2 separate regions of the Homo sapiens genome follow, and region 2 is linked to region 1. The links come from fine-mapping of genetic effects on plasma protein levels. A gene starts in region 1. The other region holds a variant in brackets. All regions are shown on one strand. Distances are from middle to middle.

Evidence for each region. A credible set is the group of variants that fine-mapping cannot tell apart. PIP is the posterior inclusion probability: the model's chance that the variant is causal. Sun 2018 read protein levels with aptamers (SomaScan).
Region 2: its variant is the best candidate, but not a certain one, in a credible set for the plasma level of the CFHR5 protein (Sun 2018, PIP 0.76). The variant lies in the coding sequence of CFHR5. If it changes the protein, the assay may bind it differently, which can mimic a change of level.

The regions. Positions count from the first base shown.
Region 1 is chr1:196,969,369-196,982,309 of GRCh38, forward strand. CFHR5 (complement factor H related 5) reads left to right here and starts at 8,188. Exons shown (of 10, transcript NM_030787.4): 1 at 8,188-8,354. The coding sequence starts at 8,297.
Region 2 is chr1:196,995,934-197,008,874 of GRCh38, forward strand. CFHR5 (complement factor H related 5) reads left to right here. Exons shown (of 10, transcript NM_030787.4): 6 at 89-268; 7 at 2,195-2,371; 8 at 6,549-6,731; 9 at 8,728-8,910; 10 at 12,554-12,941. The coding sequence ends at 12,750. Among named protein-coding and RNA genes, the nearest start is that of CFHR5, 25 kb to the left of the region's middle. The variant G/A (reference allele first, on the strand shown) is at 2,291.

The sequences.
Region 1 (12,941 bases):
AGGGACTCGCCATGTTAACCAAGCTGGTCTCAGACTCCTGGCCTCAAGTATTCTGCCCACTTCGGCCTCCCAAAGTATTGAGATTACAGGTGTGAGCCACTGCAACTGGCCTAATTAAAAGTTTAATAGGATTTAGCTTCAGGTCTTTGAAGATTGGTTTTTCTCTTTACTTAAGTAAATATTTCAGATTTGGTCTTTTTATTAGGAAACTTGTTGAAAAAAATTTTCATCCTATCAAATGATATCTTAAAACTGTGATAAACATTAATTGTGGAGTAATGTACATAAACTATGTGTTGACATACAAATTATTTATAGTTCTTTACCATATATTACATTTTTATTTATATATTAATATTTATTTATATGTTGCTTATATGATGTGTTATATCCACACAGATCTATTTTTCTAGAGACAATGCCAATTCTAAATTATTTTCATATTTTGCCATCACAATATATACAAATGTATACACATGTACATACCTATTTTCTATTCATCATAATCCAGTTGTAATTATATCTCGGATTTTTTATTTGGGGTGAGCTTTTGCTTCCTTGTTTTATGATTCTTTGTTCATTCTAAATTTTCTTCACTGAAAGTACATTATGTTTACAGTCAGAAAAATGATAGTATAAAAAACTTACCCAGGCAGTATCTTAGCTGAACTAGCAGGGGCAGACACGGCTCGGCTTTCTGCTAAAAGATTTCATGACAGGCAAAGAAAAGAAAGGAGAACGGAATTGAATAGAGATTTAAAATCTGTACTCTTATCCCAACCTACGTAAATCTTAGGCATGAGAGGACTGCAGTATAAAGCTACTCAGATCCTCTACCTTGATTTTTGTGTTGTTCTGTATTGTTATCTTCTTGGAGACACTTCAAAAGAGTTTACACTTGATTTGACTCCAAAAATGTTATAGTGTCTTCTTTAACAATGATGTTATTAAATACTTTTGCATTCTGGGTTACATATAGTTCTCTGTTTCTTAATCACTAACGACAAGTGGTAATGAGTTAAATGAATAAAATGCATCAATGACATCATTGAAATATAAGCTGTATATTCTTTAATTCAGGATATTTATTTGTTTTTTTCTCCCAAGAGAAATTTGTAGATATGCAGAAATAAAACAAGGACAATTATATGACCAAGATAAATATAAACCAACTTTACCAGTTCACAAGAAAAAAAAACTGTTCTATTACTCCTGTGAATATAGCTTTGTATCTCCTTCAAATCCCCTATAGACTCACGTAACATGCACAGAGAAAGAATGGGTATCAACAGTGAAGTGTCTTAGTAAGTAAATGCCCTGATCATTATCTGCATAAATCATTCGGTGAGTAGAGAGGGATGCCTCAAAAGGGATCTGTGTCTTGACAGGGGCAAGGTCTAAAAGAGCCTGAAGAGATGACAGATGTAGCCCTTATATTATTTGGGAGCATTTTATGAAAATCAAGTGAGAAGGAAAGACGTAAAGCTTTGGGGACTATCTATTCCCCAAATATAATATTTCTATTCATAGAAATATTTGAATTATTTCTAAAATGGACAAAAGCCTTGATACTTGATACCTATTTTCTAATATGTATTTTTGTCAATATGAAAATAAGTATTTCCTAGGAAAATCAAGGAAGAATTAAGTAGAGAGCAATACCATGTTCTTGGGCTAGAATACTCAACAGGATAAATAAATAAATTTTTCTCAAATTGTACTATAGGCTTAACATAATTACTTATTAAAATTTCAAGAGAATTCTTTGTAAATATAGATCATTTCATACTAAATTTATATTAAAATGCACAGGAGTTAGAATGGCTGAAACATTTTTTTAAAATAATAAAGTTGAAAGGATCACACAAATCAAATTTGAGGCCTCAAAATATAGCTACCATATTAAAAACAGTATAGTATTGATGGAGGGATAGACATAAATCAATAGAACAGATACAGAATCCAGAAAAGGTCATATAATTGTCCTTGTTTTATTTCTGCATATCCACAAATTTCTCTTGGGAGAAAAAACAAATAAATATAATATTTCTATTCATAGAAATATTTGTATTATTTCTAAAATGGACAAAAGCCTTGATAGTTGATACCTATTTTCTAATATGTATTTTTGTCAATATGAAAAGAAGTATTCCCTAGGAAAATCAAGGAAGAATTAAATAGAGAGCAATACCATGTTCTTGGGCTAGAATACTCAACAGGATAAATAAATAAATTTTTCTCAAATTGTACTATAGGCTTAACATAATTACTTATTAAAATTTCAACAGAATTCTTTGTAAATATAGATCATTCCATACTAAATTTATATTAAAATGCACAGGAGTTAGAATGGCTGAAACATTTTTTTAAAATAATAAAGTTGAAAGGATCACAAAAATCAAATTTGAGGCCTCAAAATATAGCTACCATATTAGAAACAATATAGTATTGATGGAGGGATAGACATAAATCAATAGAACAGATACAGAATCCAGAAATAGACCCACACAAATATGCTCAAGTAACTTTTAACAAAGATGCACAAATAATTCAATACAGAAAAGATCCTTTTTTTTTTTTTAGTTCAGGGCTACCTGTGCAGGTTTGTTACATAGGTAAACTTGTTTCATGGGAGTTAGTTTTACAGAGTATTCTGTCACCCAGGTATTCAGCCTGGTAGCCATTAGTTATTTTTCCTATTCCTTTCCCTCTTCCCACCCTTCACCGTCCATTAGGCCCCAGTGTGTGTTGTTCCCCTCTATGTGTTCATGTTTTCTCATGATTGAGCTCATACTTAGAAGTGAGAATGTGTGGCATGTGGTTGAGAAAAGTTTCTTTTCAACAAATTGTGTTGGGGACTAGCACTTTCTTAGCCAAAAAATTAATTTTGATTTAATCTCACATATTTTACAAAACCTAACTCCAAATGGTTCCTATATCTAAATGCATAATGTAAAACAATCAAACTTGTAGAGGAAGAGAAAATCTTTGTGATCTGGGGTTTGATGGAATTGTTCTTAAACAGGACACCTAAAGGATGACCCATAAAAGAGTGAAATAATAATAATACTTTATCAACATTAAACACTTTTTATCCATGAAAGACATTCTATGAGAGTGAAAAGATAAGCTACTTATTAGCAAAAAATATTTGCAAATAACGTATCTGACAGAGGACTTATACATGGAATATATAAAGAATGCTCTAAACACAGGTAAAACAATCCAATCAATAAAGGTGCCAAAGCCTTGAACAGATCTAACAAAAAAGATATTCAGATGGAAAATAAACATGTGAAAAGTTATTCAATGTCATTAACCATTAGGGAATACACATTAAAACCACAATGAGATTTACTATGTATCTAATAAAATGCTTTAAAAAAATTAAATGAAACACATTGGTAATAGTAAGTGCAAGTGAAAATGCAATACAATGGATCTCTCATACATTGCTTGTGGAAATGTAAAATGTCATAGCCACTATGGAAAACAGACAATTTCTTATAGAGTTCAATAGCACTTTTCATAAAACCCAGTAATCTCACCCCTGACTGTTTACCATAGGGCAGGAGATGGCAAACTATATCTTAGGAACTAGCTATCTATTTTCTTAATAAAGATGTATTGGATGTGAGCCACACCTTTTTATTTATGTATTGTCTATCATTATTTTGGCTCTATAACTACAAAGTTAGGTAGTTGTGGCAGAGGCCATATGGTTCACAACCTTAAAATACTAAACATATGACCCTTCGAGAACAAGTTTGCTGTTCAAGTAAAACATTGCACAAAATTGTCCATCATAGCTTTATGTGTAATAGCCAAAAAGTAGAAGCAACTCAAATGTCCTCAGATGAGCGAAAGAATAAACAAACATGTTACATCCATACAATGGAGTACTTCACAGCAATTAAAAGAAATGAATTACTTATAATACAACAGCTTGGCTACATTTCAAGGACATTACCCTGTGTGAAAAATATCCAAATCAAAAAGTTGACTTACTGTATAATCCAATTTATATAACACTCAAAATGACTAAATTACAGTTATGTAGAACATACTAGTGATGACTAGCAATGAGGGGTGGGGGAATGTGGGGACCATAAAAGGACAGCACACGGGAGTTTTCTGGAGGTGATAGAATAGTTCTGTATACGACTGAGTAGTTCTACATATGACTGATTGTGGTGATGGTTACATGAGTGCATACATGTTGCAAAATTAATATACCACACAAACACAAACGCAAGTTCATGGGAGAGACCATGAAATTCAGTAAGGTTGGTAGCTGAGTTAGTAGTAGAGCACTAATGTCAATTTCCTGGTCTCAATTATTGTACTATAGATATAAGAGATGCAGGAAGTTATAGTTATTGGAGGAAACTGGGTAAAGGGTACATGGGCATTCTCTGTACTATTTTTATGACTTATTATATGAATCTAAGATTATTTCAAAACAAAAATTATTTGGATTATATAGGCTGGGATGTTTTACTTTTATAGCACTTTTGGGGAAGAGAATTTTCAATATTCAAGAGTTATAACCAATTTCAGCAATTTTTCTTTGAGATACTTAAATCTATCTCAAATTTTATCAGTAATAACTTCTACAAGCCAGTTTCATATGTATTTGAATGCTATAATTTGCCTTTTAACCCTTTCATATTTTTTGTAACAACAAACAGTTTCAGACTTAATTTACTTTCCCTGCACTAAACCTGGAATCCACAAAAAAAAGAGGTCCCAGTTTCCTAGATTTATAATGCTGTGTAAGAAACTTATTGGCATAAAACAGCAATCATTTTATTATACTTAAAGATACTGTTAGGAATTGACGCAGGGCACTGAGGTGATGACTTATAACTGTTCCACAATATTTGAGCCTCAGGTGAAAAGATTTAAATGGGTTAGGACTCAAATAACTGAGATTTGGAATCTGCAAATGTCACTCACCTGTATGACACCTGGGCTATTGCCTGGGCCAACTGGGACTATCAACCAGAAGATTTACATATGGCTTCTGCATACAGATTGAACTTCTTGCCAAATGGCAAAAGGCTTCCAAGATAGTGTCAGAGAGATAGTCTTCCAAAATATAAACCCATAACTCTCTAATATCTAGCAGAGTCACTACCACTGTATTGTATCAACAAAAGCATGCCACTAAAAAGTACAGATTTTCAAAATGAGGGAAATGTGATTCCAAATCTTGATAGGATCATGGCAAAATCACATGGCAGAAGAACAAGTGAGATGAGACACAGTGGAGTGAGCATCTTTCAAAATAAAATTGGCCACAAAATTGAAGACAAAGTTATTTTCTAAACTGCCCTTTTATTTCTTATCAAGTATAGTTTCCTTCTCCTTTTATTTGTTGCTAATGTTTGCAGGAGGGCATAATCTCCTGAAATTACTCAGAACAAGAAACAAACAAAAAAGGGCAATCTAAGTTTCTGAATTAGGAGAAATATTCAGCAAATAAAAAGGAGAATAATTGTTGAGTACTGGGCTTCAAAAAAAATAGACAAGAGAAGATAGTGTTAATTCAACTAAAAATCGGCACTAGCTCTGTGAAAATTAACTCTGTGCTTACAAATAAATAACATCCCCTGGATTCAGACAAACCAATGTTTAAAGGTCACAGAGATTAGAAGAAGCCAACAAAAGACTGAGATGGTGAAGCCTTTGAGACAGAAGAGAAACCAGGAGAATGTGGTGTTCCATAGACCATGTGAAGCAGGTATTTCCAAATGGAAGGGGAAAGTCATGAAATTTTTCTGAGTATTCAGTTTTGACCAATGGATTTGATTAGATTGAAGAAGGCATTGGTGACTGTTACAAGAGGGGTTTAAGCGTAGTGTTGGGAATGAAAAAATGAATTAAAGTAGAGATTGTAGATAACATTGGAGTCATCGTATTATAAAATGAGAAGTGAATTAGATTACTAGAAAGAGATTTGGGTTCTATGAACAATTTTTGAGCTTTTGTTGTTGCTCTTCATGATGAAAGATGTTTGGTATGTTTGCATATTGGTGGAAATAATTTGGAAAATGGAGAAATTAATGATACAGGTGAGAAGGAATAATTGAAAGAGCAAAATCCTTGCACAGAAAAGATGGGATCAAATCTGGTAGAGACCATAACAAGATAGGAGTAAAGATCAACATCCAGTGAAGCAAGAGACAATGCAGAAAAGGATGCGTGTGAACAGCAGGTAGTTTTCTTCTGATTGATTCTATATCTAGATGAAAAAATAAATGAAGTCATTAGCAAAGCACAAAGTGAGGATTGGTGGTTAAGGAGGGAGATAATGAAAACAGGAGAGGGGAAAAGCAGTGTGGAAATTATTTAGGACCGTGTTCATTAATTTAAAGCAAGGCAAGTCAGCACAGTTGCCTTTGTTTTTCTTGTAGACACACTCTGCTGCTTCAATTCAGGCACAGGGCAGGTAGAGAATTTATTTGCAAAGGATTGAGGTTTTCTAAGACTTGGATTACAGATAGAAAGGAACGAATGGGCAGGAGAGTGTGTGCAAGGGACTGACTGACAGTGATGAGCCATGGAATCTAATTTAGATGTGGTGGGAAGAGAGAAAATGAAGGGAAGAGAATAGTGAAAAAGTGTCAGGGTCATTGAATGTTTGGAACAAATTTAGTAGAGTAAGTGAGCTAAAAAGATTGTTGAAATGGTCTAGAGTGTGATGCTTAATATTTAGATACTTTAGGTAGTGTAGTAATTGGAAATGACAAGGTTTAGATAGACTAGAATCAATAGTGGAGACTACTAATAGCTCACAGGGACTTCTCTGGTTTCTTGATTGGACATAGCTATGTGCATTCCCATTGACTTCTGAACCACCATAAGTAAGTTTCCTCTTAGTGAGATCATTAGGCTGTTTCTGTAAATTTCCCCATTAAATGTTAAATTTCTCTCAGGCTGGGCACTTTGTTGCTTGCTTCAGCTAGTATCCTCTAGTCTTCTCTGATTGTTTCCCACTGTAATCTCTTTGTATTCAATAGGATCCTCGGGCATGGACCTTTCCAAGCTATAAAGTCACTCTTCTCCAGCAGGGGAGCAGAGCTTCCAGTCCACATAGCCTGCCTGCCCATCCAGGGTTCAACTTCTGAGCCACGGAATTGGGCTGCGAGACAGAGGTGGATGAAAGCATCCGCTCTCTTTTACTGAATTTTATGGAGACTTTCTGGAAAAAATATTTCCCAACATTATGCTGTTTGGCCAATTTCCAGAGACAACCAATGGTTACTTTTAAATTTTTATCCAGTTTTATTGCTGCCTTTTGGTTGGGAGTGAATATACCAAGACCCTCACATAGCCATTCTCGAAGTCCCACCTGAACAAAATGATTTTGAATTATAATTCTGTTCTTCAAACATTTCAGGAAACGTTACTTGGCAAAAATTATTCTTTTTTTTTTTTTTTTTTTTTTTGAGACAGAGTCTCGCTCTGTCGCCCAGGCTGGAGTGCAGTGGCGCGATCTCCACTCACGGCAAGCTCTGCCTCCCGGTTTTACGCCATTCTCCTGCCTCAGCCTCCCGAGTAGCTGGGACTACAGGCGCCCGCCACCACGCCTGGCTAAATTTTTTTTGTATTTTTCAGTAGAGACGGGTTTCACCGTGTTAGCCAGGATGGTCTCGATCTCCTGACCTTGTGATCCACCCGCCTCGGCCTCCCAAAGTGCTGGGATTACAGGCTTGAGCCATTGCGCCCGGCCAGCAAAAATAATTCTTGATTAGACCTTTTATAGTTTATGAAATATTAAAACTGTTAAGAAGGTACCTAATTCTTAGTGCCAGTTTTAAAAGGGAATTTACAACTACAAAAGTGATATTGTTGTATTAAGATGAGGACTGATGACTTGCACTTGCTTGCCTTTTGAAACAGCTGAACCCTTGGCTAGAAAAAAAAAAAAAACCCAGGGGGCCGGCGGTGGGGAGCTTCCTCTCTCCTCTAAACAGTCCATTTCTGATTGTTCCAAACTCAGAGACTCGGTGACTACAACAAGGAAATTGAACAGCAGTTATTTTGCTTAAATAAATATTACATAACGAGCTGAGAATATTATTGTGAAGACACTGATTAGATACTATTTGCTTATTTCACACAACCCTCCATGAACTTTGATGTTTTCCACAAAGGGCTTTACTAAACTAGCTTCCCCTTAGTACATTGAAATTCAAAGTCATGCTTGTAACTGTTAATGAAAGCAGATTTAAAGCAACACCACCATCACTGGAGTATTTTTAGTTATATACGATTGAGACTACCAAGCATGTTGCTCTTATTCAGTGTAATCCTAATCTCATGGGTATCCACTGTTGGGGGAGAAGGTAAGTTGAAAACAGATCCGAATATTTTAGTTCCTTTTCAAATGTATTTATTGATTGTGTGTGTGTATGCATACAAATATTTTTAAATGAATAAATAGCTGAGGATAATTTGAAGGGGTATCACAATATTCATCTATTTTCTGGAAATATTTTCCAACATGCAATTAGCAGGAAAATTGAATGAAATTAATTCTCTCCGTTCTCTAGTTTGCTAAGGGTAAATGGTCACCAAATAGATAATGTAAAGAGAAATCAAAGGAGAGAAAATCTGCTATAATAAAGATGACAAGGTGAAATATTAGTGTAATTCTGCATAAACTCTGCAATGCCACTGACTAGAAAAATCAACCCCAAAAGATTTGGCCACCTTCATTATGTTTTGAGAATTTTATTTTCATAGATTTGATAATTTACATTTTAAATGTTATTAAAATGAAGGAATTCTCATTTCAGCCTAATTATCATTCAACAGGGAAATATATTTTAATGAAACAATAGAAAATATTATTTTTATATATAAACCAGTGAACTGCCAAAAAATTGTTTCTTCTGAGCTCTTCCACAAATTTCAAAAGTGAAATAATATATCACTTCTTTATTAATACTATAAACTGATTCTTATAACATTATAAACTATCCCATTTTATTTCATGTGGAAATTAAAGCCACTATATCAAAAGGATTGCAAACAAAATCTCTAACAAGGTCTAGGATACTGATTAAACTATGTGTGTACGTGAAGTTTCAATCATTGTGCTATATACTCTTTGATTTCCAGAAAGTTTTTATTTTACTGCTTTACTGCTTTCTAATGTTTACAGATCTTTAAATTTTTTGAACACTTTCTTCTCAGTCCTGACATAAGAGAAAAATATGAACCATAAAATGCTTTCTTTTTAAGATATGCCCTTACAAATGTTGCAAAACATTATTTCTATGGGCCTAAAATTCATTTTATTTTGTTTTCACTTTTAGTACTGAGCTATAATCACAAGAGTGCGATTGCATGAGTGTATTTGATTTTTCTTAAGTCTGTGTTTATGATATTTATTAAGTGGCTTAAACATCTGTTACAAATGGCATTACACAAGGATTTCTAAAGGGGGGTGGAAGCAGAGGAAGATAAGTGAAAATTATGAGGATAATATGTAGAATTTTGACAATTCCTAACCCCACAAAACTTTCAAGCTTCAGTCCAGTCCCAGGATAAACTTTAGTGAAATTCTATTAAAAGTTGTCTAGGTGTTAAATGACCTGTAAGTGTGCATTACACTTTTGTTTTGGTGTCTATTTAGAAACTGGCCAAACAGCAGAAATAACAGACGAAAGCAACACTTTTGTACAAATAGAAAACTGCATGCTTCCAGTAGCAAAACATGAATCAAGCAATATATTGTGCTTCATGCTGTAGCAAAGAAGCTGGAAAGAATATGACAACGCCACCCACCCCTCACTACTACTTAGAGTGTCCTAAAAGAAAAGCAAAATGTAAATAGGCAAATAAATTGCAAGGTTTTATATATAGGTAATTGTCTGTGTGTGTGTGTGTGTGTGTGTGTGTGTGTACACTCATACATCACTTAATGATAGGAAAACGTTCTGAGAAGTGTGTCTATAGGCAATTTCGTCCTCCTGCAAACATCATAGAGTGTACTTACACAAACCTAGATTGTATAGCCTACTACCTAACTAAGCTATACGGCCTGTCACTCCTAGACTGCAAACCTGTACAGCATGTTACTGTACTGAATACTGTGGGCAACTGTAGCACAAATGTAAGAATGTGTTTACCTAAACATATAAAAGGTACAATAAAAATACAATATAAAATATTAAGAATGGCAGACTTGTATAGGGCTCTTACCGTCAATAGGGTTTGCAGGACTGAAAGTTGTTCTGGGTAAGTCACTGAGTGAGTGGTGTGCAAATATGAAGGCTTAGCACATTACCATACACTACTGTAAACTTCATGAACACTGAATACTTGAGCTAGGTAAATTTATTTTATTTATATATTTATTTCAATATTTTGGGGGGAGCAGGTGGTTTTTGGTTACATGGATAAGTTCTTTAGTGCTAATTACTGAGCTTCTGGTGCACCCAGGATAGACTAAATTTATTTTTAAAACTTTTCTTCAATAATAAATTAATTTATGATAAGCTTTCTACTTTATCAACTGAAAATCTTTTAACTTGTAACTCTTTTGTTTTAGCTTAAAACACACCTTGTATAGATGTACAAAATATTTTTTCTTTCTATCCTTATTCTGTAAGATTTTTATCTTTTAAATTATTTATTTATTTACCTTCTACACCTTTTTGTTAAAAGCAGACACAAACACACACATTAACCTCGGCCTACGGAGGGTCAGGATCATCAGTATCACTGTCTTCCTCCTCACTCTTGTTCCACTAGAAGGTCTTTAGGGCAGTAACATGCATGGAGCTGTCCTCTCCTATGATAACAAAGCCTTCTTCTGGAATAGTTCCTGAAGGACCCGCCTGAGGATGTTTTACAGTTATTTTTTTTTAATAAGTAGAAGAAGTGAACTATAAAATAATGATAACAACTATAGTACATTAAATACATTAACCAGTACCATGGTCATTTATTATCATTATCAAGTATTGTGTACTATACATAATTGTGTGTGCTATTGTTTATATGACTGGCAATGCTGTAAGTTTGTTTATACCAGCACTGCCACAAACATGTGAGTAATACATTGGATTATGATGTTGTGGTGGTCATCAGTTGATAGGAATTTTTCAGCTACATTATAATCTTATGGGACCACTGTGATATAAGTGATCAGTCATTGACCAAAACGTCATTATGTGGTAAATGACTGTATGTCTGTATATATACGTGTGTGTGTGTGTGTGTGTGTGTGTGTGTGTGTGTGTATCCCAGAAGAAATATATTCACAGTATTCTATCAGAATGTCGAGACAAGGAAAATTATTTTCTGCTTTTGGAGTGGGTTGTTGTGTAACGGCAGGCTTGCCAAAGGACGATAACACTCCTAGCACCATTGCGGATGTGCACAATGGTTATACGATGAATGTTGTAGAGCAAGTTCTAAAGGATAGGTAGAATACAACTGGATGGTGAGAACTAAGTTATTCTGGATAGCGAAGAATATGTAAGTACATATGCATGAAAATCAAGTACTATAATTTTGCAATTTTCAAAAAGTAAATGATATTTAAAAGGAGTTATGATAGGTTAATACTATCAAGACACGAGGGAGTCTTTCCCTCAGTATCTTCTCCAAAACTATCTAATGTCAATTTTTAAACAGTTAGGTAATAAATTTAAGGTTTCACAAGGTTAAATACCACAAGAATTATTTCAAATATTGTGCAACATTAAATATTACTTCTAGGTAGTTAAAAAAGAGAAATTTCCCTTGATTTGTCAGCTGAATTTCTGCATGCTTTTTCTAAATAAGGTGAAAAACAAAACAATTTCTTATGCAGCAATGCTATATTCAGGAAATATCTTGAGCTAAAAAATGAGCACACTATATTGAGGAAATATCTCGAGCTAAAACAGCATTCAAAGATAAAGTACATCAAATCCATAGAATGTACAATATCAAGAGTAAACCCTAATGTAAACTATGGGCTTTAATGACAATAATACTGATAGTGAAGGGGGCTATTCATGTGGCAGGGAAGAGGAAGTGGTATATAGGAAATCTCTGTACCTTCCACTCAATTTTACAGTAAAAAAACTGTAAATAAAAAATTAAGTCTAATAAAAAATATGTGTATATATAAATATATATATACACAAGAAAAAATAGAGTCAAAACATGAATATTTCACCCATTTTCTACATTGTTTTACCATATCTTGCACCATAGTGCATATGGATGTATGTGTGAGTGTCTATATAAATATATCCAGTAGTATCCTCAGTATCATTAGTATCCTTAAGGAATTGTTCCAGGACTCTTTTCACCCCCAGCAGATACCAAAATCCACAGATGCTCAAGTCTCTAAGAGAGAATGGCGTAGTATTTGCATATAACATATGCACATCCTCTCATATAATTTAAATCATCTCTAGATTATTTATAATATCTAACATAATGTAAATACTATATAAATAATTGTTATATTGTATTTTTAATTGCATTGTTTTTATTGTTTTATTATCTTTTTATTGTTTTTTCTTTTTCAGATATTTTGGACTTGCAGTATAATAAACATTTATGTATACAGCATTTACCAGAATTTAGCTCTAATTTTATCTCGGTTGAGTTGTTCTTAGTGATTTTCTTATACTCTTTAAATTATTTCCACTGAAACCACATAAACTTTGTAACCAGAAAGTAATCAGAATATTAATAAACAAAAAATCAAATTACCTACCCAACATTTTTACTGCACCAGAAAAAAAAATAGGACAGATTTTTCTGGTGGAAATACCTATGACAGTTGATGAGAATAGAAAAAGAAATAAATCTGAGAGCTGAGAACAATCCTATCACTCCTCTACTGTACACTACATAGACCAGGGAGATTTGCTACTCTTACAGTCTGCCTTCATTCTTAAATTGTTGTGTGAGGATATTGT
Region 2 (12,941 bases), 27 kb after region 1:
CTATTACTTTGCACTTATATATAAATACACATGTAAACAGATTTAAAATATTTTCAGAGTAAGCACTCATTTTATTACATTTTCTTAGAACAAGTGAAAACATGTGGATACATACCTGAACTCGAGTACGGTTATGTTCAGCCGTCTGTCCCTCCCTATCAACATGGAGTTTCAGTCGAGGTGAATTGCAGAAATGAATATGCAATGATTGGAAATAACATGATTACCTGTATTAATGGAATATGGACAGAGCTTCCTATGTGTGTTGGTGAGAAAACATTCCTAAACTTTATATTTGATTATTTATCATTTTGATTGGGATTGTATAAAGTGTATAAATCTGGCTAGAATTACAATTTTATTGATACTGACTCTTCCTTCCACAAGTAAAATATGTCAATCCATTTATTCAGGTCTTACATTAAACTTTACCATATGGTTTTATGAATTTCTTGTTATTACTGCACAGATTTCTTCACCAATTTATTTGGGATTTTTCTGGCATGATGAATGGAAACTTTTATTAATGTATATGCTTGAATAGTTATACTTTCTATATGCAAGAATGTGATTTAATTGCATACATTATTTTTGTTTCCAGTAACCTTGTTGAATTTCTGTATTAGTTCTAATATTTAATTGGGATATTGTATTTCTACAAATGATGGCGATTTAATTTCTTTTATTTCATTGCTTTAACTTAGTCTTTACCTCAGCATGTTCCAGATAGAACAACCTAAAAAATAGCAATGTAGCTTGAGTTCTATTAAATTCCAGAGTGTTTGGAATCCCTTCATAGAAGAAGAGTAGGGGACTAGGACCCAGGAACTAGGCATGATCCTTGCTCTTTCTGGTCCCATAATTCTCTTATTTCTATTCCTAATTATCTACTTAGTTTGTCGGTTTCCTCCACAGAAGTAGTAAGTAGTAAGTAGTAAGTAAGTAGTAAGTAGTAAGTAGTAGTAGTCTATCAGCCTGTGTGCTCTACTCTTACCTTGCAGCCTCAGGACTTCCAGCCTTGACACTTAAGTACTTGCAGGTATTTTTTTTCCCGACACCCTCAGATCCTGGCCTCTTTTGTCCTATCTCTAGCAACCTCAATACATTAAAGCCTCTAATTTTGAACTTTAAAGACAAGCAGACTTTCCGCCGCTGTTCTCCTCCTTACAGAAACTGAAACAGAACCGCCTCTCTCTCCATCTCCTGGACTTTTGGATAATCAACTGGCCCACTCATTGCTGGGAAAAATTACTGTAGGTGTTGCCAGCCGTTGTCCCAGCAAATACCTGGTCAGTGGCCATCCGTGATGACCTATTGTGAGGGAATGTTTTCCACTACCAGGAGCCAGAACGCTGTTATGGGAAGATGTAGATCATATATCTTCATGGTCATCAACTTTTATGCAAGGAGTACATAAATATCAACCTCTAGCCCCATATGGGGTGAATTAAAAATAGAAACTATTGCAGAAAACACCTGTAAGCATAGAAGTAGCAGAGCACACTCCATGTCTCATTATCCCATCCTTTTACACACTAAGGAAAAGGCTCCATAACTATCTACATGTTTATGGGAAACGGGAAAAAAATGTAACAATGAGAACTACTTAGACAAGCAAGAGGCTTAGTAGGAATTTATGTTCTGAAGCTCAGTTGTGTTATTATCAGTGAGTTCTTCCCCTGAGAATACTCTGACTTACTGAGTCAGAGTTTTTGCTGAGCTTTTGAAATGTGAGTCATTGAACCTCAAGGGGGACCCAGATCTATCTCTTACTGATGCTTTGCTTCCTGCAGACTTACCCATGTATTGCCTCTTTTTATTATTTAAATGTTTTGAAGATATTTAAGATAGTTTAGTGCAAAACAATCATACATGTGTACATTTTCAGAGCCTCTAACAATTCATTTGTAGCTTCCTAAGAACTATCTTTCAGTCAAAACTCCCACTAGGAAAACCTATCTTGCACTTTCATTTCCCAGAAAACTTTCTGACCTACTTTCCTGTCATTCAAAGATGGGATACAGTTTTTTGTTTTATTTTTTCTTTTTCCAACAGCATTGTCTATTTTGTGCAATGAGATTAAGAATAAGTTTTGTGATGTTGCTTAAAAGCATCAAACATAATTATGCTATTAATATTGCAGATATTTTATTGACATAATTGTTTAGTTTCTATTTAATATTATTTTTTATAGCAACACACCAACTTAAGAGGTGCAAAATAGCAGGAGTTAATATAAAAACATTACTCAAGCTATCTGGGAAAGAATTTAATCATAATTCTAGAATAC[G/A]TTACAGATGTTCAGACATCTTCAGATACAGGCACTCAGTCTGTATAAACGGGAAATGGAATCCTGAAGTAGACTGCACAGGTAAGATTTGTTTAAAACATTTTGTTGATCTTGTTGCTTCTTTACAAGAAAAATTATTTTGAAATTAGAATGTTTTTAAATTAAATATTTATTGTGGCATATAATTTCTATGCTAATAGTAAAGTAGAAACTAGTTATAATACTCTTTCCAGACAAATGTTATTCTTTAAAAGCCTTGGCTTTCTGGTAAAGATGAGAGAGTAAAGCTGTTTTTACTCTATTACAGTCTCACAAAACCTTGAAAGAAAAAAAGAAATAAAGAACTGTAAAAAAAGAACAAAACTTAATCTTCAATGACATTAAGAAACAATTAAAACCCCAATTATGCACTGTGAAACAAAACTAACAGATATTGCCAATTCTGGACCAGACAGTAGGCTGAGTAAAAAGTAGGCTGAGAAAGAAAATATATTTGAGTAATCAATTATTTCCCTAAGAAAAAGTCTCACATTCCTCGAAGGCTTATATTCAAATCATTTACTTTGAGTAATAGGATTATAAATTACAAGTAATTATAAAATGGGGCACCATATTAGATTAAAATAAACCAGAACTAGAGAAAACAAAGTGCTTATAAAGGAATGACAATAAAAGAGAGAAGATAGACTGCAGACTTCTCATCAGCAACGTCAAAAGCCGAAGAAAATAAGGTAATCTCTTCAAAGTGCTTAGTGAAAGTAACTGGCAACCAGTCATTCTATGTACCAATATAATTCACTAATGATTCCAAAATAAAGAAATTTGCAACCACAGGAAGGATAGGAGTTTACACACAAGGTCATAGTTTGAAAGAAATCATATAAAATACACATTAATGATATAAAATACTAATTTATAGCAAAAAGTGTGATGTCATTAGAAATTGTGAGGAAAAATACTGGAATATATTCTTAAACTTAAATACATAAGGATTTCAAAAAGATAAGATAACTACAATTTGTTTAAAGCAACTGGAACATTTTTATGTTTATAAAATATTTGATTTCATTATATATTTTTTCTATTTGAGGAAGAGAAATATTCTGATAGTTGAAAGAAGTTTGAAGCCTTTTATGTGTCCATGAAATGTTTACTTAAATTGGCCAGTCATTCTGCCCAAAATAATTCTCACAACTTCAAATATTAAAGCCCTATAGATGACTTTTTGTAACCACAAACAAATAACATTAAAAGTGTATAAAAAGTTATCCACTTCCTTACCTTTCATTTTGGGTAAGCAAATAATTTACTTCCAAATAACCTAGTGATGTAATGTTTAAAATATTAAGAACTATGTTATAATTACAAGGATACGTAGTAAAACCTATGAGATGCAACCTAAGCAAAATTTAGAATGATGTGGCATTCATAGTCTTAAACTTATCTATTTTGGGAAAAAGTATATATATATATATATATATATATATATATATATATATACACACACACACATATATATACACACACATATGTATATACACACACACATATATGTATATATGTATATATGTGTGTATATATATGTGTGTGTGTGTGTGTGTGTGTATATATATAATATATATGTATATCCTAAAAAGCTAGGGGGAAAATGAATTCAGATATTAGGAGGAAAAGGAAATAATAAAAGTAAAAGCAGAAGAAAATGAAATAGAACCTTGTATTTCCAACTAATCCAAGATATGAAACTAATGTTTTGAAAAGATTAATAAGCAGAGCTGTCTAAATGAGTTGACTCTAATCAAGAATGGTGTGCATACACAAATAAACATTTCTACAACCAAAGAGTAGATGAAAACTGAAATACAGGGAATAATAATATGAGTTCAATTTTTTAAATAAATAAATTACAAGCATAAAGAGAAGGAAAATACTATGAGTCATAGGTATCAAAATAAGGAAGAAGCCTTATTTAAAGTTTTGAGAAGAGCTGGTAGCTAGTAGTCTGGAAATTAGGTAAGAACGTTATTAGGTGGCAAATATTTGTTACACACCTTGCTTGTTCTTGAGAAAAATAATAAAATTTCTCATTTTATGCATCAGAAATACATGGCTTCAAGAAGTTATTTGGTCAAAATCAAGACTGGAACTTGTTTCCAGATTTTTATATCAGTGCTGTTTCAACTAGACTCTGTCTTTACTAGACAGAAATTTCTAAACAGATGTCCAATTCTAAAAGGAAAGTAAGGTGGGCAACTGAGATCATTATGTGTAATGTTCTTTTTACCTAAAATATAAAAACAATAGTATATGTGTGATATTTGAATATCTAACTCACTTAGTTGGGACTTTGTTGATGAAATTCTCATTATTATTTGTACATTTGAGATTACAGACACCTTCAGCTTCCCTATTTCCTGGCACTGGGACATCTAGGAGGCTCATAGCAGGTAACTGCTGAGTCCCTAGATTGGCAGCACAGGCCTTGAGGCTCATTCAAAAGAGTCTTGATGATACTCAATAAGTATTCATCTTTGTGACTATGTATTTAAATAAAAATACTTAAACCACCAAACAGAAATTCATAAACAACAAAAATGTTTAGTTTCCAAAATGTTTACAAAATACCTAAACAAAGAGGTAATAAGACATTAAGTAGAAGAGCTTCTAAATAATAAATAATATTGAAAACTGACCCATCTATCTATCAAATGTGCCTGATATCCTCTTTTCATGTGCTTCTCATAGACTTTCTTCAAACTCATGACCAAACTTTGCTAATCAAAAATGTATACTAACAATAATAATATCAGGCTAATTTTATTTTCTTTTGCAGTTAATTACTGAAACAACACTGATCACAAAAGACTGGTCTTGTTAATGGTTGACTAGAATAAGATGCATCTGGAACTAAGTACTTTAAGTTCACGCTTTTCTTAAACCAGTAAATAAGTAGGACGAGTCATATAAAACATAAAATACGCATCAGTGGGCCCCAGTCCCAGATATCTATCTAGATTTCCACAGGAACAGTTTCTGTTTAGATTTGCACTATTTTGCCTTTCTGACCTTGAAAAAATAAGGAAAAATCCAGTATAAAATTCCTATTTTAGACAATATGTATGTTTTGGCTTATTTTATACTGACCTCAGGTTCTGTTCAAATAATTTATTAAAGATCTGTTGTATATAATTATTATATTTTTTAATCTAGCTAAACCAGGAAAGAGTAGATATGCACTCTTCTGTCTTGATTTTTAAATGAAAATAGTATAGCGAGGAAAAAAAATAGCACTTTCAATGCAATAATTTTTTTTTTCACTGAATATGTTTTTTTTAATTATTGTTATACTTTAAGTTTTAGGGTACATGTGCACAACGTGCAGGTTTGTTACAAATGTATACATGTGTCATGTTGGTGTGCTGCACCCATTAACTCGTCATTTAGCATTAGATATATCTCCTAATGCTATCCCTCCCCCCTCCCCCCACCCCACAACAGCCCCCGGTGTGTGATGTTCCCCTTCCTGTGTCCATGTGTTCTCATTGTTCAATTCCCACCATTTTGAAGGGAAGTGTTAGTAGACAGTAGCCACCACTCTGGAAAAACATGAGATGAAGGAGATCACTGTAAGGGCATGAGCCCAGGTCAGGAGGTTTAGAAAACGCTTTGGCATCCAAGTTGACCATTTAAAACTTTTCCCTAAGAATAAGCCAAGCAACCAAAAAAGAATTTAATTCCTAGTCCAACGGAGGCATTCCAGTTATGTTCATTACCAGCCATTCTCATGTTTACAAGAAAATGCAAGTCATGGAAATCCTTTATTGAGATCTAGGGTTCAGTTATTAGGGGAAGTCATAGTTATTTCTGATTGTTGTCATTTTTATTTTTAAATTGTTTAAATTCAATGTACATAACTTTTTGAATCATATGGGTTAGTTAGAAAAAAATTAAAGAAATTTATTTGTAAATTATACAAGAGAATTGACAGGAATAATGAATAGGAGATACAAGAGAGCATCTGAAAAATTTTAAACTAATGGTTATAACAAAAAGAATCGCTTTTTAAACTGTAAACTATAGTGACACAAAAAATATTTGTTATTATAACATTTATATATAGGGAGAGAGAAAGAGAAAGTGATAGAGAGACATAGTGTGTGTGTGTCATTGAATCTTCCATTTTCCTGAAACACTACCCTATTGAGCTGTTTTTACTTAACTTTTATTAATCATATAATTTAATTCCAATATTTTGTAGAAAAAAGGGAACAATTCTGCCCACCGCCACCTCAGATACCTAATGCTCAGAATATGACAACCACAGTGAATTATCAGGATGGAGAAAAAGTAGCTGTTCTCTGTAAAGAAAACTATCTACTTCCAGAAGCAAAAGAAATTGTATGTAAAGATGGACGATGGCAATCATTACCACGCTGTGTTGGTTAGTAGTTTATTTCTAAGTAATTTCACTTAAAAAGAGGTTATTAATCCCCTTTGCTTTATCTAAAGAAAGAAACAAGAACTTATGACTAATCTGTTGCACTGTACCCCAAAGCCTTAAATTGCTAAGTAACCAATTCTGTCATTTAAAAAAGTTTCTCTAAGAGTTATCTCCAACAGTGTTCATAGAAGAAACAAGTTTGAAATTTCTACATCTTCTTAAAAATCTTTTCTATCATATTTTTACTGTACCTTTTCTATGTTTAAATATGTTTAGATATGCAAATACTTACCATCATGTCACAATGGCCTATAGTATTCAGTATGGTAGCATGCTGTACAGGTTTGTGGCCTAGGACAGCAATACCCAACCTTTTTAGCATCAGGGACATGTTTTGTGGAAGACAATTTTTCCATGGACTGAGGAGGTTGGGGGATGGTTTCAGGATGAAACTCCTGTGCCTCAGATCATCAGGCATTAGATTCTCATAAGGAGCATGCAACCTAGGTCCCTTGCATGTGCAGTTCACAATAGGGTTCAAGATCCTATGAGAATCTAGTGCCCTGGTTGATCTGACAGGAGGTAGTAATGCTGGCAGTAATGCTCATTCGCCTGCCTCTCACTTCCTGTCATGCAGCCCGGTTCCTAAGAGGCCACAGAGGGTACTGGTCTGCAGCCAGGGGTTTGGGGACAATAGGAGCAATAGGCTGCACCATATAGCCTAGGTGTGTAGTAGGCAACATTATCTAGGTTTGTGTAGGCTCACTCCATGATGCTCACACAAGGAAAAAAGAGCCTAATGACACATTTCTCAGAATATCTTCTTGTCATTAAGTGCTACATGGCTGCATTTCAAAAGCACATATTTCAAAATATTACTTGACAAAACATCAGATATGGCAAAGAGTGCTTAGAGCTGGACAAGATGCCTGATAATTGAACAATCTATTTATCTAAATAAAAACCATTGGTAATTTTGCCTAGAGATATTTCCATAGGGGGTAAGTAATTGCAGTGTGTTCAAGAAAGAATGTGGGGTGATAAAGTAAGATCATGGAGGATGAGAAACAAGTAAATGTGTTCAAAAGGGAATAGAGAAATGAGGCAGTTACCGGATAGAAGATATGGAGAAAGTGAAATTTTACCTTATTGAATTGTGACATTTTCAGCATGTTTGTAGGTTGGTGAATGATTAAGTGGAAAGGGAGACATTGATGTTACAGAAGAAAGGAGATAATTCATGAAGAAGGATCTTTTACAAGTTTAAAGGTGAAAGAATCTAGTGTCATCATGAAGAAGTCAATCTGAGAAAGCAAGGACAGTAACTCAATGAAACTAGAGGATGTACAAGCAATTTGGGATAGGATTACTTAGTGATTTCATATTTATGTTCTTGGTGATATATAAAGGGAGATCAGTCAGTACAATTGAACGTATTCCAGCCAATCTTAGCATGAAGTTGTTACTTTTTTTAGTTTTCCCCAAAATCTCTTCATTAGCATGAAGTTGAAACATTTATTGATAGGGAAAGATGCCTACAATATTATTTGGTATCAAAAAAGTAAATGCAGAAGAGTGTGTCTGCAATTCATTTTCAGTAAAACTACAAGTTTATGATCATATACTAGTTGGTATATGCTATTTGCATAAAGTAATAATTACCCTGAGACTAGAAACAGTAAGAAAGTTATTTACTTTTACCTTTCCTCTTTAAGTGACAATTGAATATTAAGGGGTGGAGGAGGAACCTAGACCAGAAGTTTACTCACCTGTCTCTCCTGCCTTCAATAAAAAGTATTCCCGGTATTTTATATGAATTTCACTTTAACATGAAAGGAGCTACAATATGTTTTGAATCAGACTTTATGACAGAAATACTGTAATTAATTATTTGAATTTCCAGACACCTTATATTAAAGATATGATACATGATGCTTCATTATATTATTTTGTTTAAACTAACATAATGTCTCAACAAATAAATGCTGTTTTCCAGAGTCTACTGCATATTGTGGGCCCCCTCCATCTATTAACAATGGAGATACCACCTCATTCCCATTATCAGTATATCCTCCAGGGTCAACAGTGACGTACCGTTGCCAGTCCTTCTATAAACTCCAGGGCTCTGTAACTGTAACATGCAGAAATAAACAGTGGTCAGAACCACCAAGATGCCTAGGTGAGTTCTTAATATTCTCTTGGAATCTGAGATTTAATATTTATAGTGTAATTTTTTTGGACTAATTTCATAGAATAACCCTTACTTAAGTTTCATTCAGTCAAAATCTTTCCTGTCAAATGTAAATACATACAAGGAAACATTTGAAAAATTTGCTTTATGCAAAGTGAGAAAAATTTATTTAAAAACTATAAATAAAATTTTAAAGACCTACATGTGATAAGGTGCATTATGAAATTCTGTAGAGTCCAGAGCTATTTATGGGGCCTATTCGCACTCCATTAAATTGTTTCATGTTATAAGCATCTACCTGAGAACTTCTCACAGAGACCCTTTGAAAAACACTGGTCTAGGAAAACTGTCATTTAATACTATATAAGGTTCTACTTGTAAACCTGAAAGCTTTCCCTAGTAGAACACCTAGTTGACTAATACTGACATGGCTTTTTACTTGCATGTTGGCAGAATTTCTAGCAGGAGAGATAGAAAATCTGGAAGAGTTACTGAGCCACTTTCTAAATCTTCACTATCCCTTCTTTTCACCCTATTTTTTTCTACTACAAAATAATGCCAATATACATATTAAGTTTCCACAAATTCATGTGCACTTTGTGGCATTAAAAAAATTAACATCGTAGACTCCTTATGAAAATTTGGAGATTCACTTTTAGGGCTTAAAAGGAGATTCTTTTATCGGTCATGACAAACTAAAAGGGACAAAATACAAAGATATGGGGCGAATTAATAACACCAATTATGGGAAAAGCATGAACGTCAGTTTACTCTATAATAAGTGGAAGAAAACTGGAATTTCCATAAACCCCTCTGTTTTCTGGTGTCCAAAAGAGACACCATGGTAATAAGGATCTGTTCCTGCAACAGTTCTCACTGTTGCCCAATACCTCACAGGGCTAGACCAGAAGTTTGTTATAGTCTTGAAAATTCATCCTTCTGACGATGTCTCTTTCTTCCACCTTCTGTAGTAACAAATTACCCCAATGCCACTATGGCCTATACAGTGCTTCAAACCACTACTCTGTGTGAGCCCCTCTCCCAGGATATCATTAAAATTGTGTGGGAACTGAACTCAGAAAGTGTTGAGTTAGTATAAGGCAGAAGTATCATCTGAACAATTTTGCTAGAATGAAGAAAAACTAGGTTTCAAAGATAACTTCTAGGATTTAACTTGGAGTGATTGATGGATAGACAAAAATGCCATTATCTAATATTTTAAGTACAGCCAAGTTTTAGATGGTCCAATAATTTAAAATTCGCAGAAATTATCATGGCCAGTGATCATAAAATAAATTTCCAAAAGAAAAGTAAGAACAAAATTTGTAACCTAAAAAGTGTGTACCATGTTGACAATCAGAGTTTGTGGGAAGGGCATTCTAGCAAAAAGAAACAGTATTTTGAACAATAACAAACACAAACACACAATCACGAAAACAAACAAGCAAAAAAACCCATCATAGATATCTGGAAAATTCAAGGAAACATGATCTAACTATGAAATGTAAAATAATTTTATTTCCCATGAGATAGGAGATTAAGATTAGACAGCTCTGAAGAAATAATTTTTTCCAGCCAGGCATGGTGGCTCACGCCTGTATTCCCAGCACTTTGGGAGGCCAAGGCAGGAAGAATCACCTGAGGTCGGGAGTTCGAGACTAGCCTGACCAATATGGAGAAACCCCATCTCTACTAAAAATACAAAATTAGACAGGCATGGGTGGCACGTGCCTGTAATCTCAGCTACTCGGGAGGCTGAGGCAGGAGAATCATTTGAACCTGGGAGGTGGAGGTTGCAGTGAGCCGAGATTGCACCATTGCACTCCAGCCTGGGCAACAAGAGTGAAACTCCGTCAAAAAAAAAAAAAGATATAATTTTTTCCAAAACCAGACATAAATTTATTTGGATGGTTCATGGGTATTGAATGAAGTAGGGAGCCATTACATATTTTTAATAGCAGTTTTTTGACATAGCATCTTTTTTTATTTTTATTTTTTCAAGACAAAGTCTTGCTCTGTCACCCAGGCTGGAGCGCAGTGGCGTGATCTCGGCTCATTGCAACCTCCGCCTCCTGGGTTCAAGCGATTCTCCTGCCTCAGCCTCCCGAGTAGTTGGGATTACAGGCACATGCCACCATGCCCGGCTAATTTTTGTATTCTTAGTAGAGACAGGGTTTCACCCTGTTGGCCAGGCTGGTCTTGAACTCTTGACCTCATGATCCACCCGCCTCGGCCTCCCAAAGTGCTGTGATTACAGGCGTGAGCCACCACGCCCGGCCCAATGTAGTATTTTTAAATTATCAGTTGACTAAGAACATGTGGTTATTTTACACCGAGAAAACATGCAATATGGGGAAATTGTTTAAGGCCCTGGCAGAGATAGATTAGAGTCTTGACTAGTAGGTAAAAAACAGGAACCAAATGAAAGAGGGGTTAAAGATAACTTCAAAATTTCTCGATTTATGGAGAATATTCTCAGGTGCTTAACACATAAGAATTTTTACAAATCAATCAAAATTCAGTATAAAAATTATGTAAGGTACATAAACAGAAAATGAAAAACATATGGCAAACATGAAAGAATGCTTGTCTACACGAACATAAAATTTCAGTGAAGTGTCAATGTTCAACTAGGAGATCGGCAAAAAGAAAAAAGTATATAACATAAAGACTTGGCAAGGATGTGGAGAGTTAAGCACTCTAATATACATACAAGTGTATAATTACATATACATGTGTGTATATGTAATATAAATATATTACATATTACATATATTTTTAACATATATGTATACACATATACATATGTAACATATCTAAATATACATAAGTATGTATGTATAATATATGTATACTTATATACACATGATACATATACATACAATATATGTATACATATAATATACATATAATATGTTATGTATAATATATTATATTATACATTATATATAATCCATATATTATACATAATATACCGATATATATTTATACATTAGATATAAATTGATTACATTACATTAGATATAAATTGTATGTAACATGTATACAATTAACGTACATATATTACAATTAACATACATATAAATGTATGTTATATATACACATTATATTATGTATTATGTATTATATATTATATATAAGATATATATAAATATATATATAAAGTGCTGATTTTAAGAAAGAGTGAGTGATATCTGGGGTCAGGGAAGAAGATAACATTGTTTTTTCTACAGAAATCAAGGTTTCACAAAGTTAAGATTCACAAATAATTACATTATAAAAAGGGATATCTAAACAAACAACATTCATGCTGGTAGAATTTTTAGTAAAGTATAGCAATTAAGAGCTCAGGTTCTGAACTCATACTGGCAGGATGCATATTCTGGCTCAAAACACTCACTAAACTGTGTAGCCTTGAGAAAATCTCTTAGCATTTATTTCCTCATATGTAGCCCATACACAGTGCTAAGAACAGTACCAAGAATAACTCAATAAATATTATTTTTTAAATAAATATTAATATTTTTCATCATTTTAATTCCAAAATATTCTTAAATGCAATTTCACTATTCTATGAAAGGTAAAGATGTATTATTATTTATTTATTTTATTTTACCATTTCTTCTTTCAGATCCATGTGTGGTATCTGAAGAAAACATGAACAAAAATAACATACAGTTAAAATGGAGAAACGATGGAAAACTCTATGCAAAAACAGGGGATGCTGTTGAATTCCAGTGTAAATTCCCACATAAAGCGATGATATCATCACCACCATTTCGAGCAATCTGTCAGGAAGGGAAATTTGAATATCCTATATGTGAATGAAGCAAGCATAATTTTCCTGAATATATTCTTCAAACATCCATCTATGCTAAAAGTAGCCATTATGTAGCCAATTCTGTAGTTACTTCTTTTATTCTTTCAGGTGTTGTTTAACTCAGTTTTATTTAGAACTCTGGATTTTTAGAGCTTTAGAAATTTGTAAGCTGAGAGAACAATGTTTCACTTAATAGGAG